Linked DNA regions of Homo sapiens. The protein of the gene in region 2 interacts with the protein of the main gene of each other region in a pairwise test. Each region holds a gene or a part of one and is shown on either strand. Other genes may lie near its edges.

Region 1 (3,500 bases), on a different chromosome or scaffold from region 2:
GTAGTCTCAGGGAGCTGCTTCTCAGGTTACCATGTGGGCACAAAGAGAGAAACATATGGCATCTGTTTTGACAGGTTTTTATCTGGCTAGATGAGGTGTTCCTGTATTTTAACTTAGTGGTCTTCCCTCTAGGTTCTTTGCAGATGTAGTTCCAGCAGTCAGGAAGTGGAGAGAGGCCGGAATGAAGGTGTACATCTATTCCTCAGGGAGTGTGGAGGCACAGAAACTGTTATTCGGGCATTCTACGGAGGGAGATATTCTTGAGGTAGGTTACCTAGTTTACTTTGTTGTTTTGACGCTATCAAAGCATAAAATAATGAATCTTAATGGAAAACTAATTGGAACTAATAGAATGCTTTTTTTTTTTTGGTTGTTTAAAATTAGGTAAGAAGAAAATAATCACTTTTAATTATATTGTATTTACAGTTTCTTCTATATAAGGTTGTTATATAAAGTTTATTCTGTGTCTTGAAAAATAAAATCAGTTAGGATGCAAAATAGGATTGTGCAGTCCTGAGAAATATATAAAGACTTTTTGAATACAGCAGAGAACAAGGTGCACTCATTTGTTTCTGGCTCTTTGAAGAAATATAGATTTCATTTAAGAAGAACCAGCATTATTATAGGAGAACCAGGCACATTTTTAAATGTAATAAGGTCGTCACCTGTTGCATTTCATGTACATGAGAAAATTCTTGCTAGCCCCTCTGTGTCATCATCCCTGCACCCCCTGGAGGATGGGGTGATCAGTGAAAGAAGTGACTACATTTAGGGTTTTAAAAAGAAGTGCTGATTAGCTGAATATAGACCAAACTTAACAATAGGTAACTTGGAATATAGACTTAACTTAAAATAGGTTACTTACAATAGGTAACTTGACCAGATACTTTTTAAAAATAAATATTTACCGGCCGGGCGCAGTGGCTCACGCCTGTAATTCCAGCACTTTTGGAGGCCAAGGTGGGCGGATCACGAGGTCAGGAGATCGAGACCATCCTGGCTAACATGGTGAAACCCCGTCTCTACTAAAAATACAAAAAAAAAAAATTAGCCGGACGTGGTGGCGGGCACCTGTAGTCCCAGCTACTCGGGAGGCTGAGGCAGGAGAATGGCTTGAACCCAGGAGGCGGAGCTTACAGTGAGCTGAGATCGTGCCACTGCACTCCAGCCTGGGCGATAGAGTGAGATTCCATCTCAAAAAAAAAAAAATTTACTTATTTTAACTTACAATAGGTAACTTGAATATAGACCGAACTTATAATAGGTTACTTACAATAGGTAACTTGGCCAGACAAGTTTTTAAAATAAATATGTATTGAGCACCTACCATGTGCAAAGAACACTTTGGCTTTGGAGGTTGTAATATTCTAATTTTAGTATTTTCCTACTTTCTGTCTTATTTTTAAATCAAATATTAATAATGAAACCCTTTAATCATTGGTGACTGTTCTCTTAATACAGATACAACTTCTTTTCTGCTCTCTCTGACAATCATGACAGGACAAAAGTACCTACTGAGTTCACTAATAAGAATTTTACTCTCTAGTTACCAAGTGAGGCAAACTGCAAGAAAAAGAAAATAAGCAAAATCAGTTTTAACTTTAAAAAAAAAAAACTTAAAATTACTTTTTTTTTTTTTTTTACCTTCCCATTGGCCAAACCCAGTTTGAGTGCTTACTATGCTTGTTTTTAGTTTGTGAAAAGTTCTGAAAACATTCAAAAGATCACATCTTAGTAACTGACCCTAAATATGGACTTATTTTAATTACTGTTGGTCAAATTAGCAAGTTACAGATTTGACTCCAATTGTTTCCAAGAGGGCAGAGACATAGACGAGCCCTTGGGTAGAATTTCAAAACGTTTTAACTAGAAAATGAGAATTTCTTGTAAGTAAAATAATAGCTTATTCATGAGGCAGGTTAGAGAAATTTTTTCATCGTAAGATTAAAGGACAGTGTTCAGAATCTTTCATCAGGAGTAAAATTCAATCCAGTGAGTAGTTTGAGTGCAAATCATCTTTAAGGGTAGGATGTAGGGCATGTTTATTTTAAACTATTTCAGATGTAAAATGAACGGTAGTGAAAACCAGGTAGATTATGAAATGATCTTATGTATGTTGAGCTGGTAGTTTTCTTCTTCCAAATGTCTGTTGCTATAAAATCTTTATTTTTACTTTGTATAGCCTCCATAAAGTTCCCTATTAAGTAGATTTTCAGAAAATACTGAACGAATGAAGTAATTGTGATTGTCATGTATTTCAGAGAAAGGCATGAGGGGCATGCAAGTGTATTTGTATTGCCAGTCTTTCCCCTTCTCTTTGTTCAGCTTGTTGATGGTCACTTTGATACCAAGATTGGACACAAAGTAGAGAGTGAAAGTTACCGAAAGATTGCAGACAGCATTGGGTGCTCAACCAACAACATTTTGTTTCTGACAGATGTTACTCGAGGTGAGTAATAGACTTCTTATATTATATACTCCAGGATATGAACTGAGCCTGGCACTACAAATACATTGCCTCTTTAAAGAAACTTTATATGGGGATCCTTGAAAAATAAAACAGTTTTACGGTTTTATATAAAGAAACAGTGTCTGGTTCAAGTTCATGTTTGAATTAAAAAAAAAAAACACAGCAGTGAAGGCAGGCTTGGTGGCTCATGCCTGTAATCCCAGCACTTCTGTGGGCTCAGGCAGGAGGATTGCTTGAACCCAGGAGTTCGACACTAGCCTGGGCAACAATGTAAGACCTCTGTCTCTACAGAAAAATTCAGAAAGTTAGTTGGGTATGATGGCTCACTCCTGTGGTCCCAGCTGCATGGGAGGCTGAGGCAGGGGCATCAGGTGAGCCCAGGAGGTCGAGGCCGCAGTGAGCCGTGTTTGTGCCACTGCACTCCAGCCTGGGTGACAGAGCAAGACTGTCTCAAAAAAGAATGAACCAACTCTGGGGGTTGCATGTGGGGAAGTGGCATTGAAAAGACTAACTCTTCTCGTTTAACTCCTTGTCCGTGATTTCCCAGCCATCGCTATGTACACACACACACACACTATGACACAGGAAATTAACAGGAAGACTTAGAGGAGTTGTCATGGGAAGGAGCATGCAAGCGGGGTTGTGAGTATAAGGGGTAGGTAGTTGAGCCAGCCAGTTCTGGGATTAAATGCACAGTTCCATTTGTGATCCCCGGACCTTTGCTCTATCTCAATATTAAGAATTATAACCCCTGTCCTTAGACCACTTATAGTTTCTTCATATTCTTGTGTTTAGCCACTTAATTTTTGTATTTGGGATCACATAGTACATCTATAATTTCAGATCTTTCTCTTCTCATTTAAGCCATTTCCTCAGTTGCAATTGTAGAAATTATTCCTAATTTTGGAGAATAGAAATAATCCCTAAATTGGCTTCAAAATGAAATTAGCTCCCTTTGATTCTCTGTAAGGAGGTTTTATTCCTGCCCTTCATCTTCTGCTGGCCCCATACACACTTAGGCCAGAACTTG
Region 2 (3,500 bases):
TGGACTCAAGTGATCCTCCCACCTCAGCCTCCCCTGTAGCTAGAACTACAGGAACATGCCACCATGTCCTGCTAATTTTTTGTTTTTGCAGAGATGGGGTCTATGTTGCCCAGACTGGTCTCAAACTCCTGACTTCAAGTGAACTTCCCAACTCAGCCTCCCAAAGTGCTGGGATTACAGGTTTGAGCCACCACGCCCAGTCCTCAGGATGTTATAGATTCTCTATAAATCATTTATAGAGAATGCTCTAGATTTTAAAAACAACACAGCCAGACGCGATGGTGCTCGCCTGTAGTCCCAGCTACGTGAGAGGCCGAGGAAGGAGGATTGCTTAAGCCCAGGAGTTCGAGGCTACAGTGAGCTATGATTGCACCACTGCACTCCAAGTTGGGTGACAGAGTGAGATTTAATCTTTTAAACAACAACAAGAAACCCTCATCACTTAATAACATTTAACACATTCCTGAAAGTAGTCTACATTCAAAGTATTTCTAGTCATCTGCACGTTGACCAACTGGCTACTTTACATTGTTTAGACACATACCATCCAGTATGGTAGCTACAAGCCACATGTAGCTATTAATCACTTGAAATATGCCTCTTTAAAATTTATTTTTTCATTACATAATATACATCCATGTAGAAATACGCCTAATCTGAGATGAGTTGTAAGCATAGCTTACAAACCAGAGAAAAAGAATGTGAAATATCTCAACAATTTTAATTTTTTTTTCATACAGACAGGGTCTCACTATGTTGCCCAGGCTGGTCTTGAACTCTTGGGCCCAAGCAATCCTCCCACCTAGGCCTGCCAAAGTGCTGGGATTACAGGTGTGAGCCACTGAGCCTGCCCTCAACAATTTTTAAATCTTGATCACACAATAAAGTAACATTCTAGATATGAGTTAAAATATATTATTAAAATTTACTTTTTAGGCCAAGTGTGGTGGCTCACGTCTGTAATCCCAGAACTTTGGGAGGCCGAGGTGGGTGGATCACCTGAGGTCAGGAGTTCTTGACCAGCCTGGCCAACATGGCAAAACCGCATCTCTACTAAAAATACAAAAAAATTAGCTGGGCGTGGTAGTGGGTACCTGTAATCCCAGCTACTAGGGAGGCTGAGGCAGGGAGAATTGCTTGAATCTGGGAAGTGGAGGTTGCAGTGAGCCCAGATCGCGCCACTACACTCCAGCCTGGGCAACACAGTGATACTCCATCTCAAAAAGAAAAAAAATTTTTTTACTTTTTAAAATGTGACTATTTGGCCAGGTACAGTGGCTCATGCCTGTAATCCCAGGATTTTGGGAGGCCAAGGTGGGCGGATCACCTGACGTCAGGAGTTCAAGACCAGCCTGGCCAACATGGTAAAACCCTGTCTCTACTAAAAAATTCAAAAATTAGTTGGGCATGGTGGCACACGCCTATAATCCCAGGTACCTGGGAGGCTGAGGCAGTAGAATTGCTTGAACCTAGGAGGCGGAGGTTGCAGTGAGCCAAGACTGCACCACTGCACTCCAGTCTAGGCAACAGAACAAGACTCTATATCTTAAAAAAAAAAAAAAAAAAAAGTGGCTATTAAAAGTAATATATGTGGCTCACATTATTTCTTTTGAACGGCACTGGTTAAACGCAATGGTAGATTTTTTTTTTTTTTTTTTTGAGACAGAGTCTCGCTCTGTTGCCCAGGCTGAAGTGCAGTAGTGCGACCTCGGCTCACTGCAAGCTCCGCCACCTTCTGGGTTCATGCCATTCCCCTGCCTCAGCCTCCCGAGCAGCTGGGACTACAAGCGCCCACCACCACGGACAGCTAATTTTTTGTATTTTTAGTAGAGACGAAGTTTCACCATGTTTGGCAGGATGGTCTCGATCTCCTGACCTCGTGATCCACCCACCTCAGCCTCCCAAAGCGCTGGGATTATAGGCGTGAGCCATCGCGCCCCGCCCAATGGTATTTTAAACCTGTGCACAGAGCTAATACATGTATGTGTTCAAGCTGTACTCAGAATCATTTATTTTCTCAACTTACACTATTCAACATCTTATATGTGAAAACATTTTTACCTGAAAGTATGAAAATGTCAGAGTCTAGGCTGGGCGCAGTGGCTCATGCCTGTAATCCCAGCAGTTTGGGAGGCTGAGGCAGGTGGATCACCTGAGGTCAGGAGTTCAAGAGCAGCCTGACCAACATGATGAAACACCACCTCTACTAAAAATACTAAATTGGCCAGGCGTGGTGGTGCGCACCTGTAATCCCAGCTACTCAGGAGGCTGAGGCAGGAGAATCGCTTGAACCTGGGAGGCAGAGGTTGCAGTGAACAGAGATTGTGCCACTACACTCCAGCCTGAGCAACAAAAGCGAAAATCCATCTCAAAAAAAAAAAAAACAAACAAACAAAGGAGGGCAGTGTGGTGGCTTCCGCCTGTAATCCCAGCACTTTGAGACGCTGAGGCGGGCAGATCACCTGAGGTCAGAAGTTCGAGACCAGCCTGGCCAACATGGTGAAACCCCGTCTCTATTAAAAATACAAAATTAGCCAGGTGTGGTGGCATATGCCTGTAATCCCAGCTACTTGGGAGGCTGAGGCAGAAGAATCACCTAAGCCTGGGAGGCGGAGGTTGCAGTGAGCCGAGATCACACCATTGCACTCCAGCCTGGGCAAAAAGAACGAAACTCCGTCTCAAAAAAAAAAAGAAATTGTTTAGTGGAGCACCAACAAATACTTGGGTACCACGGTGTGCAGGATGTTCAATCCATAAAATAACATGTTCTGCCACACCTCCACAGCAGAAGAGTCACATATTCTATATATAGCTAATATGCACTGTGCTCCTACAAAGTGCCTGGTCCTGGCACCATGTGAAGTGCTTTACTCTCACTAACCCCTAAAATCCTCACAACTACCCTATGTGGTAGATATTATGATTGACACTTTTTTTTTTTTTTGAGACAGAGTTTCACTCTTGTTGCCCAGGCTGGAGTGCAATGGCACGATCTCGGCTCACCACAACCTCTGTCTCCCGGGTTCAAGCGATTCTCCTGCCTCAGCCTCCTGAGTAACTGGGATTACAAGCATGCGCCACCACGCCCAGATAATTTTTGTATTTTTAGTAGAGACAGGGTTTCTCCATGTTGATCAGGCTGGTCTCGAACTTCCGACCTCAGGTGATCCGCCTGCCTCGGCCTCCCAAAGAGCTGGGATTACAGGAGTGAGCCACCGTGCCCAGCCTTAACACTCTTAAAGAGCCTGAAGCCGACAGAGGTTAAGTAATCTGCCAAAGTTGCACAGCTAGTAACCTGTGGAAACAAGATTCCAACCCAGCAGACTTGATCCAAAATCATCACACATCTTCCCAAGTAAAAGGGCTACAAAAAGATTATACCATTATCTTACAGGATTGAGTTTTAGTTGGGGGCATGCACCCTTTACAAAAAGATTGGAGTAGACAGAGTTAATGTTTTGCTTCCTACTCCACACTGTTCCTAAGGATAGGTTAAAGTT

What was found. The genes of interacting proteins can lie anywhere in the genome.
Region 1: the proteins of RAB10 (region 2) and ENOPH1 interact in a two-hybrid assay, tested with the Homo sapiens proteins (one large-scale study listed by BioGRID and IntAct).

What each region holds. Positions count from the first base shown.
Region 1 is NC_000004.12:82,454,590-82,458,089, forward strand, and holds part of ENOPH1 (enolase-phosphatase E1), read left to right. Parts: intron 1-132; coding exon 133-265; intron 266-2,325; coding exon 2,326-2,449; intron 2,450-3,500. UniProt on the Homo sapiens protein: Bifunctional enzyme that catalyzes the enolization of 2,3-diketo-5-methylthiopentyl-1-phosphate (DK-MTP-1-P) into the intermediate 2-hydroxy-3-keto-5-methylthiopentenyl-1-phosphate (HK-MTPenyl-1-P), which is then dephosphorylated to form the acireductone 1,2-dihydroxy-3-keto-5-methylthiopentene (DHK-MTPene).
Region 2 is NC_000002.12:26,037,084-26,040,583, reverse strand, and holds part of RAB10 (ras-related protein Rab-10), read right to left. Parts: intron 1-3,500. UniProt on the Homo sapiens protein: The small GTPases Rab are key regulators of intracellular membrane trafficking, from the formation of transport vesicles to their fusion with membranes.